2 separate regions of the Homo sapiens genome follow, and region 1 is linked to region 2. Evidence: fine-mapped expression QTL. A gene starts in region 2. The other region holds a variant in brackets. All regions are shown on one strand. Distances are between the middles of the regions.

Region 1 (5,372 bases), 20 kb after region 2:
TTACACACGCACTCACCACACACACCTTTACACCCACTCACACATACACCCACTTACACACACATCACACATGTGCTCTCACCACACACACTCCTACACTCACATACACACGCCCACTCACATATACACCCTCTTTACATACCACACCCCCACACACGCACTCACCACACACACCCCTACACCCACTCACACATACACCCACACACGCACCCACACACGCACTCACCACACACACACCCTACCCACGCGCGCACACACCCACTCACACATACACCCACTTACACACACAACACACCCCCACACATGCACTCACCACACACCCCCTACAGCCACTCACATTTACACCCACTTACATGCACACCCCCAGATGCACGCACTCAGCACACACACACTCCGTGTGTCTTGCAGCCCTGGTTCCACACCTCCGGAGATGGGAAAATCCCTCCCTTCCAAAGCAGCATCTTTCGTCCTCGGCCAGCCCTGAGTGTGTGAGCGCTCCTCTCCATATTGGGCCCCAATTCATCTCCCTATAGCTTTTCCCCCTTCTAATTCAGGAAGGGTTTAGAAAGTTCATTCATTAAACAAGCAAACAAACACAACAAGACAAAACAACAAATCCACAGCCCTCTTGAAATGCCTCCGGGCGCTGAGAGCCCAGCAGGGGCCTGAGGCTGAAGGCAGGCTCCCAGTCCCTCTGCCTCTGCTCACAGGTATGGGTGTGAGCGTGGACCCCATCCCAGGCCTCACCAACCCAGCCGCCTGCGGGAATCTCTAGAGCTTTCTGAGTGTCCTCGGGGTCCTGAAGGTGCCAACCCTGCAACCTCGGTGGGATTTTGGCCCCGGCAGGGCTCTGTACATGGGAGGAGTTCAGGGTCATTTTGTAATCTTCAGAGGCCTTGCCAAGGCCCTCTCCCGTCCTGTGACCCTGGTGACATTCTGGGACGCTGGGGCCACGTGAGGGGAGGAACCACTGCCTGGAACTTTGATCAGCGCTGGGGCTGGATTGAGCTGACCACAGGCCACACCAGACTCCTCTCTGCTCCTGAGGAAGACAGGGCAGCCCGGCGCCACCCGCTCGGCCCTCACGGTAGGCTCCCGGGGTCGCTGAAGGGCTCCAGGGTCTGCAGGGACGTGGGGGCAGGAACGGGAACTTGCGATCTCCCCCGTTTCAGAGCATTCCGCAGCTCCAGGCAGGCTGCGGTTCTGGGGGGCCCCTGCCCCGGGAGGAGAAGTCCCTGAGGTGCTCAGCTAGGGCGCTGCTGGGAAGAGGCAGGAGGAAGGTGGGGCGGGGGTTTGTGAGATGAAGATCTGCCAGTCCTGGCCTACAAGGCTGGTAGTGAGTAGAGGATAAGCAGGGTGACCAGATGTCCAGGTTGGCCTGGTTCTGCCTAGTTTATACTTGTCATCTTGGCATAATAATAATAAATAGTATTACTAATTACTTATTAATCCTATATTAATACTAAATATTATTAATTATTTATTAATATAATTATTGTTTTTTGAGATGGGGGTCTTGTTATGTTGCTCAGGCTGGTCTTGAACTCCTGGCTTCAAGCGATCCTCCCACTCAGCCTGCTGAGTAGCTGGGATTACAAGCGCATGCCACAGCACCCAGCTCAGGCCCAAGGATGACTAGCTCCTGGTTTCCTTCCCAGAAGCGTGCTGGCTCATATAATAAAGTTTGTGGTGAAATAAACCTGCAGGGGGCCACCTTTTATTGAACATTCAGTATGTGCCAGGCGCTGTGTTAAGGGCTTTCTATTTACTATCTTATTTAGCCTATTTATCATCCAATGGAGTGCTAATTTGAACTCTGAGGGCAGAGGTGATAATTAAGTCTGGAAAACCTGAGGCTTAGAGAGTTGGAGTGATTTGCACAAGCCCACACCGCTAGTAGGTGATGGCGTCAGAATCTGATCCCAGCTGGGGGCACTGGCGGAGCTAAAGTGCTTTCCCCTGCTACTAAGCAGGATGAGAGTAAGGCCTGAGATGCGAAGTCACTGAAAGCCACAAACACATTCCTTCAATTCAGCACACAGGGCCTGACTGCCTTCTCAGTGCCTGGCCCCGAGCCAGGTGCTGGGGTGCAGAGCTGCTTGCAGAGACACCACAGCAAGACTGCAGTACCACGGGCTCAGTCGGGTGGGTGCAACTGACTAGAAAACAGAGCGGAAGAGCCCAAACATTCAACACAGTACAAGAGGGATCCGAGGACCCAAGAAAGGGCCGAGCGCGGTGGCTCACGCCTGTAATCCCAGCACTTTGGGAGGCCGAGGCAGGCGGATCACCTGAGGTCAGGAGTTCGAGACCAGCCTGGCCAACACAGTGAAACCCCATCTCTACTAAAAATACAAAAATTAGCCAGATGTGGTGGCAGGCGCCTGTAATCCCAACTACTCGGGAGGCTGAGGCAGGAGAATCGCTTGAACCCGGGAGGCAGAGGTTGCAGTGAGCAGAGATGGCGTCACTGCACTCCAGCCTGGGAAACAAGAGTGAAACTCTGTCTCAAAAAAAAAAAAAAAAAAAAAAAAAAAAAAAAAAAAAAAAGAAGAGGGTAGTCAGGAAGGCTTCATGGGGGAAGTGTGACTTGCACTGGACTGGGAGGGTGGGTATAAATTGGGAGGGTCGCATAGTGCCCAGTTCACAACGGCCTCTTAGTTCAACCTGTCAGCTGTCTTCTCTTCCAGAAGCTAACACAGAGGATAGACAAGCTCCCTCGGGCCTTTGCAACATCACTGCCAGGAAGGAAAGAGTCAAGTAAGCCCCTACTGTGTGTGTGGAACTGTGCTGTGCATTTTACATGTTTATCTCAATATTTAGAATAAAATAGGTTTCAACCTTACTGCAAAAGTGATATGTTTCTTACTTAAAAATGTGGAACATATATTTTTAAGCAGAAGGAAAAAATTAAAATCATCCACAATTCAATTTTTCAGAGGTAATGACTACAAATTTTTTTCTTTTGAGATGGAGTTTCTCTCTTGTTGCCCAGGCTGGAGTGCAATAGTGCGATCTCGGCTCACTGCAACCTCCGCCTCCCGGGTTCTAGCGATTCTCCTGCCTCAGCCTCCCGAGTAGCTGGGATTACAGGCGCACACCACCACGCCCAGCTAATTTTTGTATTTTTGGTAGAGACGGGGTTTCATCATGTTGGCCAGGCTGGTCTTGAACTCTTGATCTCAGGTGATGCTCCC[G/A]CCTCAGCCTCCCAAAGTGCTGGGATTACAGGTGTGAGCCACAGTGCCAGACCCCACCACAAATATTTTGTACATAAGCTTCTATTATGTTTTCTGTGTACAAATACACCTTAAAAATGGAAAAGCAGCATTCTGAGACTTCATATATTTCACTTAAGATATTGCAAACATCTTGTCCATAAATACACATCTATAATAAATTTTCTTTTTGTTTAAAATTTTATCTTTTATTCTATTTTTTTGAGACAAGGTCTCCCCCTTCTCACGCTGGAGTGCAGTAGAGCAATCACCCACTCATTGCAGCCTCGACCTCCCAGTCTCAAGCCGTCCTCCCACCTCAGCCTCTCGAGTAGTTGAGACTACAAGCATGCACCACTATGCTTGGGTAATTTTTATAATTTTTTGAAGAGATGAGATGTTACCATGTTGCCCAGGCTGATTTCAAACTCCTGGCCTCAAGCAATCCTCCTGCCTCTGCCGCCCAAAGTGCTGGGATGACAGGCATGAGCCACTGAACCCAGCCTGTAATATAATTTTAAACATAGCAGAGAGGGTTTCCATTACATCCGAGTAGCATGATTCATGTAACCAATCCCTCATGTTGGACATTTAGGTTGTTTCTATTTTCTTGCTGCGGCCCAATGCCTGTTCTCTCATTTGAGAGTCACAATAGCCCTAACCATGCCGGGACTGAGGTATTATGATGATTATTGTTATCATGGTCGTTCTTGGTTTACAGTCGCAGACTGGGACTCTGAGAGGTGGCTTCACTCCCTGGGACACAACTGGGCAGAGGATGGGGTGGGCTGAACTGGGCAGCGGATGGGGTGGGATGAACTGGGCAGAGGGTGGGGTGGGCTGAACTGGGCAGCGGATGGGGTGGGCTGAACTAGGCAGAGGATGGGGTGGGCTGAACTGGGTGGGGGTGGTGGGCTGAACTGGGCAGCGGGTGGTGTGGGCTGAACTGGGCAGAGGATGGGGTGGGCTGAACTGGGCAGCGGATGGGGTGGGATGAACTGGGCAGTGGGTGGTGTGGGCTGAACTGGGCAGAGGATGGGGTGGGCTGAACTGGGCAGCGGATGGGGTGGGCTGAACTGGGCAGAGGGTGGGGTGGGCTGAACTGGGCAGCGGATGGGGTGGGCTGAACTAGGCAGAGGATGGGGTGGGCTGAACTGGGCGGGGGTGGTGGGCTGAACTGGGCAGCGGGTGGTGTGGGCTGAACTGGGCAGAGGATGGGGTGGGCTGAACTGGGCAGCGGATGGGGTGGGATGAACTGGGCAGTGGGTGGTGTGGGCTGAACTGGGCAGAGGATGGGGTGGGCTGAACTGGGCAGCGGATGGGGTGGGCTGAACTGGGCAGAGGGTGGGGTGGGCTGAACTGGGCAGAGGGTGGGGTGGGCTGGCCAGGGCAGCAGATGGGGTGGGCTGAACTGGGCAGAGGGTGGGGTGGGCTGAACTGGGCAGCGGATGGGGTGGGCTGAACTGGGCAGAGGGTGGGGTGGGCTGGCCAAGGCAGGAGCAGAGGCTAGAACCCAGTGCAAACCTGACCGTCTCAGCCACTGGACTTACGTTGCTGGATTGAGAAGAGAGGGGACCAGGCTTGGGGAGCAGCCAGGGACTCTGGATAAGTCTCAGAAGCCCCTCTTTGTGCTTCCAGCTGAGCTGGAGCCCAAATGGCCAAATCCAGGCCCGTTGGTGAGGCAGACATCCATGGAGCCAGCGTCGGGTGGCAGTCCCTGGGTGTCTGGGGCCAGGGTTCTAGGCCCCATTCTAGGTCCCATCACCCTCTGGAAGAAGTGAGGCTTAGCTCTGTGGTGGATGACAGACTGGCTTGAGGCATGCACAGAAACGTACCCTCCCATAAGCAATGTGAGGAGAGGAAGGAGCTCATTTGCACCCAGCCAAACCTTCCCTATCCCTCAAAAAAAAAAAACCCCATTTAAAAAGCCAGACTTCCTTGGCTTGCCGAAAGTGTGGAACATATTTGTGGGCATTTGATGGTCTTATTCCCAGATGAGGAGCAGAAAACCTCTGGCTGCCACCCCACTGTGGCCCTGGGGGCCAGCCTCCCCAGTTCCCAGGGAGGGGCGCGTCCATCTCCAGAGCTCCCCAGTGACCTGCTTTCTTGAGGCCAGGCTGGGGAAGGGGCCAAGGCCAGAGCTCCCAGTCAGAGCCC
Region 2 (5,372 bases):
CCTGCTCATCTTTTAAGGTCACCCTCTGCATGACACCCCAGGTCCATCCCTTGAAATGCTCCCACATTCTCAAGCTTGCCCCGAGGAAGGATCTGTCAGTGACCTCACTCCTTCCATCTTCTCCCAGCCCCGCTCTGCGTCAGTCCGAACTTCCGTCCATGGGGGTTGTGTGCCCAAGCACAGGATCCAGTGGTGTGCAGATGGCATGGAGCCCACGGGCTAGGCTTGGACTCTGGCTCTGTCACTTAGCATATGGCTGCAGGGAAATTAGTTAACAGGCCTGGGCCTCAGTTTTTTTGTCTGTGAAATGGGGGTAATTACTGCCACTCATAGGACTATTTGGCAGATCAGTAGTTCTCAACCATGAATGTGTGTGTGTGTGTGTGTGTGTATGTGTTTGTGTAAACTCCCCCTTCCTGGGGACATTTGGCAATGTCTAGAGACATTTTGTTACTTTTGGATCGGGGGGTACTGCTGGCATCTAGAGGGCAGAGGCCAGGGATGCCATGGTGCCTCCCGCGACACGTAGAACAGCTCCTGCAATGAAGAATTATCTGCCTCCAAATGTCACGTGGTGAGGCCGAGAAAGCTGGTGGAGGTGAAATGATGGAGAGCTGCAGTGAGGTACCCAAGGGGTCTCTGGTTCACAGCAGGTGCTTCCCAAATAGCCATCTTTAAATGCAGCCGATTCATCCCTGTGTTGTCCACCACTCCCAGCACAGTGCCCGACACAGAGCGCTTGGGTGCTAGGATTAGGGAGGATGGAAGAGGAAAAAGAGGGATATTCTTATTCTTGTAGGTTCTATGGAAAGAAAGTTAAAGTGGCCAGGCGCGGTGGCTCACGTCTGTAATCCCAGCACTTTGGGAGGCTGAGGCGGGTGGATCACGAGAATCATGAGACCAGGAGATCAAGACCATCCTGGCTAACACGGTGAAACCCCATCTCTACAAAAAATACAAAAATTAGCTGAGCCTGGTGGTGCGTGCCTGTAATCCCAGCTACTCAGGAGGCTGAGGCAGGAGAATCGCTTGAACCCAGGAGGCGGAGGCTGCGGTGAGCCGAGATCGCGCCATTGCACTCCAGCCTGGGTGACAGAGTGAGACTCCGTCTCAAAAAAAAAAAAAAAAGAGAAAAGTTAAAGTACCTGATTTGGGAACGTGGAGGAATCAGGGCCGTAAGAGGGAAGGTGTTCTGCACGTGGGAACAAGGCTGGTGGGGGAAGGGATGGGGCTTCAAGCTGTGTGGAGCCACTCCAAGCAGTGCCTGCCCCTCCTGGGCTCCTGTTATTTAGTGGACAAGACACTTTTTGTTTCCGGCTCTGAATCACGGTGCCACAGTGAGGAGGAATGTGGCGTGATTCAGGCTGTAGGTCTTGACCATGACAAGCCACCCAAGCAACTATTTCAGTAATAACACTACGCACTTTTATATCTTCCTTTCATCGCAGATCTCAAAACACAGCGCAAATATTAATTAAGCCTCTTGGCACTCCATGAGGCACTGTGTGTAAATATCACTCTCCCCACTTAGCTGAGAGGGTAAACCGAGCCAGGCAAAGGCAGGGTGGCTTCAGCCTGGGGCAGCTCAGGCCTTGTTGAGGCTCCATCTCGGAGGAGAAGCCGGGGTTTGGAAGCCTTCCCGCCCCTCCAACTATGATTCCTGTATCCTCTTCCCCAGGCCTTTTTGGGGATACCACAAATAGAAACAGTTTTGTCCCCACTGGGGACGGGGGTAGAGAGGGCAGCAGTGTGTGGGCTGTAATGCAGAGGTGAGGGGCATAGGGAAGCTCCTCACGCCCAAATATGCCCCTTGATTGCCCGTCCCCAAGCCAGAGATGTGTGTGCCTGCACCTCTCAGAGCAGCAGTAATGGCAAAGACCCCAGCATCACAAGGAAATCGGAAATGCTGTTTTTAGAGGGGACACAGTGGTCGTAATTATATTTTTCCTTGGAATCTAAAGTAAATGCTTCTTCCAAAATGTTAACAACAGATGAAACACATTAATTGTCTGTAAATTTAAAGCCAAATAAAAAGTTTAAAATAAGAAAGAAAGAAAGAAAGAAAGAGAAGAATGAATAAGTTTTCTAGAACCACAGGGAGAAGCACTTGCCAATACTTCTAGGAGCAAAGAAACGCCCCTGAATCCTGCTCCATCCCTTTCTCGGGGTCCTTGTCTCCTTGGCCAGGGCAGGGCAGCAGGGGGTCCACAGTCACTTAGGGAGGGGTTTACCGGGTCGTTGTAAACTCCCCTCTCACGGTGGCCAATGCAGTGAAGGAATCCAAAAGATACACTGGGGGAAAGAAGGAAAGAGGAAAATGTGTCCTGAGTTTTTAAATACGGTTGAAGCAAACCCCTTACATTTAGGGATGCCAGCTATGTGTACCCTGTAGTGTCAGCCCGGGACATGCAGGCACTGCACTGTGGCCCACAGTCCCCCCTCCCAGGGCCAACACTGCCCTCTGCAGTGACTCACGCCCGGGATAGTTTAAATACCGGGACAGCTTAGGCGAGCCACACTCATGCTGCAGCCTTGAGCCGTCCCTCGTCCTCCTCTCAGGCTCCCTCTTGTCCACGGCGGGCGGGCGCCGAGCTGCTGGTAAGTAGGCAAGCCACCCCCATCCCTCCTCTCTGCTTAGAGGGCCCGGCCAGCCCCTTCCCATTTCTGCTGGACCTGCTCCCCTCGGAGACCCCAGAAGGGGCAGAGCTGACATGTGCCTGGGGATGCTCTCGGGACAGGGACAGAAGCAGCCTGTGCTGGAGGGGTGCAAGCCTGTCTCCCTCACTGCCTGGACACCAGGACCACCAGCCCCTCTGCTGATGCCTCAACAGCCTCTTATGCCCCTTGCCCTGAGCGGCTCATGATGTCAACCTGGGGTGCTGAGATGTCTGAGACCAGCAAGTTGGGCTGAAAGTGGACTAAATTATCACCCCCCTTGTCACTGGATTGACCGTTCTGGAATCTAGATCCACTGGGGGAAGAACTTCTCTTTTTAAGGTTCAGATTATTTGCGCCTGTGCCATCTTTCCTGGCACTTGCCCTGGTGGCTCCCAGTGGTCTGCCCCGCATTTGGTTCTGCCCAAGACCTTCCTTCATGGGGGTTTCCCAGGCAAGAGAGCTGTCTGCTTTGCATAGATGGATAACTCCTGCAAGTGTAACTTCAGCAGATGTGCTGGTCCCTGGTTTGCAGTTCCAATTTGGAATTCGGACATGGGCTCAGCATTGTTCAGGCTCTAACAGTGTGGCTTAGGGGACACTATGCTGGCAGTTTCCCCTCTCTCCTGCTGGAAGCGTCGGCCTCTGTGGAGCCTGGAGGCTTTGAGCAGGGAGTCAGGGCAGGAGATGGATTTGTGATGAGGTGGTATGTGGATTTGAAATTGTGACGGCTGCACCTTGACCCGTGTCTCTGCTCAAACGTAGAGGCAGGACCTGGGGCCAAGAAACCAACTGTGGAAAACCAGAGCTTTCAGGACTCTCCCACCCCTGCCAAAGTGCAAGAGCCATTCCACCTCCCGGGCCCAGGGCATCACCTCGGTGCAGCTGCACTCTCTCTGAGATGACACGTGTGCTCCAGTCGCAGGTGCCAGGTGCCTGTCTGCCACGTGCCAGCTTCTCCTTTGGGGTTATCTGGGATGCGTCACTTTACCTTGGGCAGCTCTCAGATGTGTTGCTGCCACTGGCTCCTTAATTTAGAAGTGCTCTAACGGCTGGCACTTCCTTCATTCTGCAGAGACTGAACATCTGGAGTAAATTCAGGGCCAGACAGCCCAATTTGCCTGTGGTCTTGAGTCAGCTGGGCGGGCTCAGCAGTGATGAGGCAGGCATGTGAGAGGGTTCGGGGCCAGGGTAAGTTCTGGATAGATTCGACAGACAGTCAGGTCATGGAAGGTTCTTCCCAGGGCTAGGGAACACTCCCTTAGCTCGCTCAGTAAATGGCGGGGTGGTGAGGCGAGGTAGAATAGATCCAGCCGTGGAGAATAAGGGGTGGGGGAGGAGCTGTCCCGACTCAGTCCTGCCAGTAAGCAGACTGTGATCACACATGGCAATTTGCTGCCCTGAATCCTGACCACGAAGGAGTCACTGCTGCTTCAGATTTATGGCCTGTCTTGGCTTTTGGACACAGAAATTAGAACCTGCTTCCAGATGCTTTGATCAGGGGCTGATCCATTTCTCTCTACTTTGGGATCCCAGGTGCCCGCCTGAGAAGGGGGCTGTTTGTAGCCCGTGGCTGCTGTCATAAGAGCCCTTTTGGGGCAGTTCTCCTGTTCTGCTGGGCGGTTTGTCAGTTTCTCCTGCCACCCTTGCCAGGCTAATGACAGTCCTGCTCTGGCCTCTGCAGGAAGCCAGACCTGGGAGGATCCCCAACAGAAGGGCTGGAAAGGAATTGCGCTTTTTAACTGATTTTCTGTTTTCAAACAATAAGCAACATGTTGGCTTTGAAGGGCCATGAGAGATGAGAGACGCGGGTCCCCGCTTGATCAAGGTGGACGGTGAGGGTGTGGCCAGTCTTGCTTTGGAGTTCAAGGAAGGTTTCTGTTTGGGGTGGAGTATTCCCAAATCAGGGGCCTGTGACCTTGGCCCCAGGTCCTGCCTCTACATTTGAGCAGAGACACAGGTAAAGGTGCAGCTGTCCCAGTTTCAAATCCACACACTGGCCGGGCGCGGTGGCTCACGCCTGTAATCTCAGCACTTTGGGAGGCCGAGGCGGGAGGATCATGAGGTCAGGAGATCAAGACCATCCTGGCTAACACGACGAAACCCTGTCTCTACTAAAAATACAAAAAATTAGCCGGGTGTGGTGGCGGGCACCTGTAGTCCCAGCTACTCGGGAGGCTGAGGCAGGAGAGTGGTGTGAACCCGGGAGGCAGAGCTTGCAGTAGCAGAGATCACACCACTGCACATCAGTCTGGGTGACAGAGCAAGACTCCGTCTCAAAAAAAATAGATAAATAAAAATAAAAAAATAAAGATCCACACACCCCTCATCACAAATCCATCTGCAGCCTTGACTCCATCTCCAGCCTTGTTGTTGAGATTACAGGGGTCAACACCTTCTGGTGAACCCTCTGTCCCTTCCCTACAGTCCTCCAGGAGACTCAGGTGGAATTGAACAAACACCAGCATCAGAGCAGCCTTAAAGAAGAAATCCCTGAACCCATGCAGCCTGGTAGTTGAAATAAGCACTTGCCCTTGGCGAATCATGCTGGGCAGGGGGAAGGTGGATTGTATGAGCCTCAGTTGATTTAAGCTGGAGGGTGCAAATCCACCTCCTCCCCAATCCCAGGCCCTGCCAGGCGTGTGGTTGACAAGGTCCCAAATCCCGGTGATGAGGCTCAGGGATTTGCCAAACTCTGTAGTTAGGGGCCCTGATCG

The links. PIP is the estimated chance that this variant, and not a neighbour inherited with it, causes the effect.
Region 1: its variant is the best candidate, but not a certain one, in a credible set for the expression of LRRC15 in tibial artery (GTEx, PIP 0.88).

What each region holds. Positions count from the first base shown.
Region 1 is chr3:194,346,957-194,352,328 of GRCh38, reverse strand. It overlaps CPN2 (carboxypeptidase N subunit 2), which reads left to right and starts at 1,001. Exons shown (of 2, transcript NM_001080513.4): 1 at 1,001-1,087. RefSeq lists an enhancer at 676-1,525. The variant G/A (reference allele first, on the strand shown) is at 3,198.
Region 2 is chr3:194,366,887-194,372,258 of GRCh38, reverse strand. LRRC15 (leucine rich repeat containing 15) reads left to right here and starts at 2,516. Exons shown (of 2, transcript NM_130830.5): 1 at 2,516-2,598. RefSeq lists an enhancer at 2,093-3,057.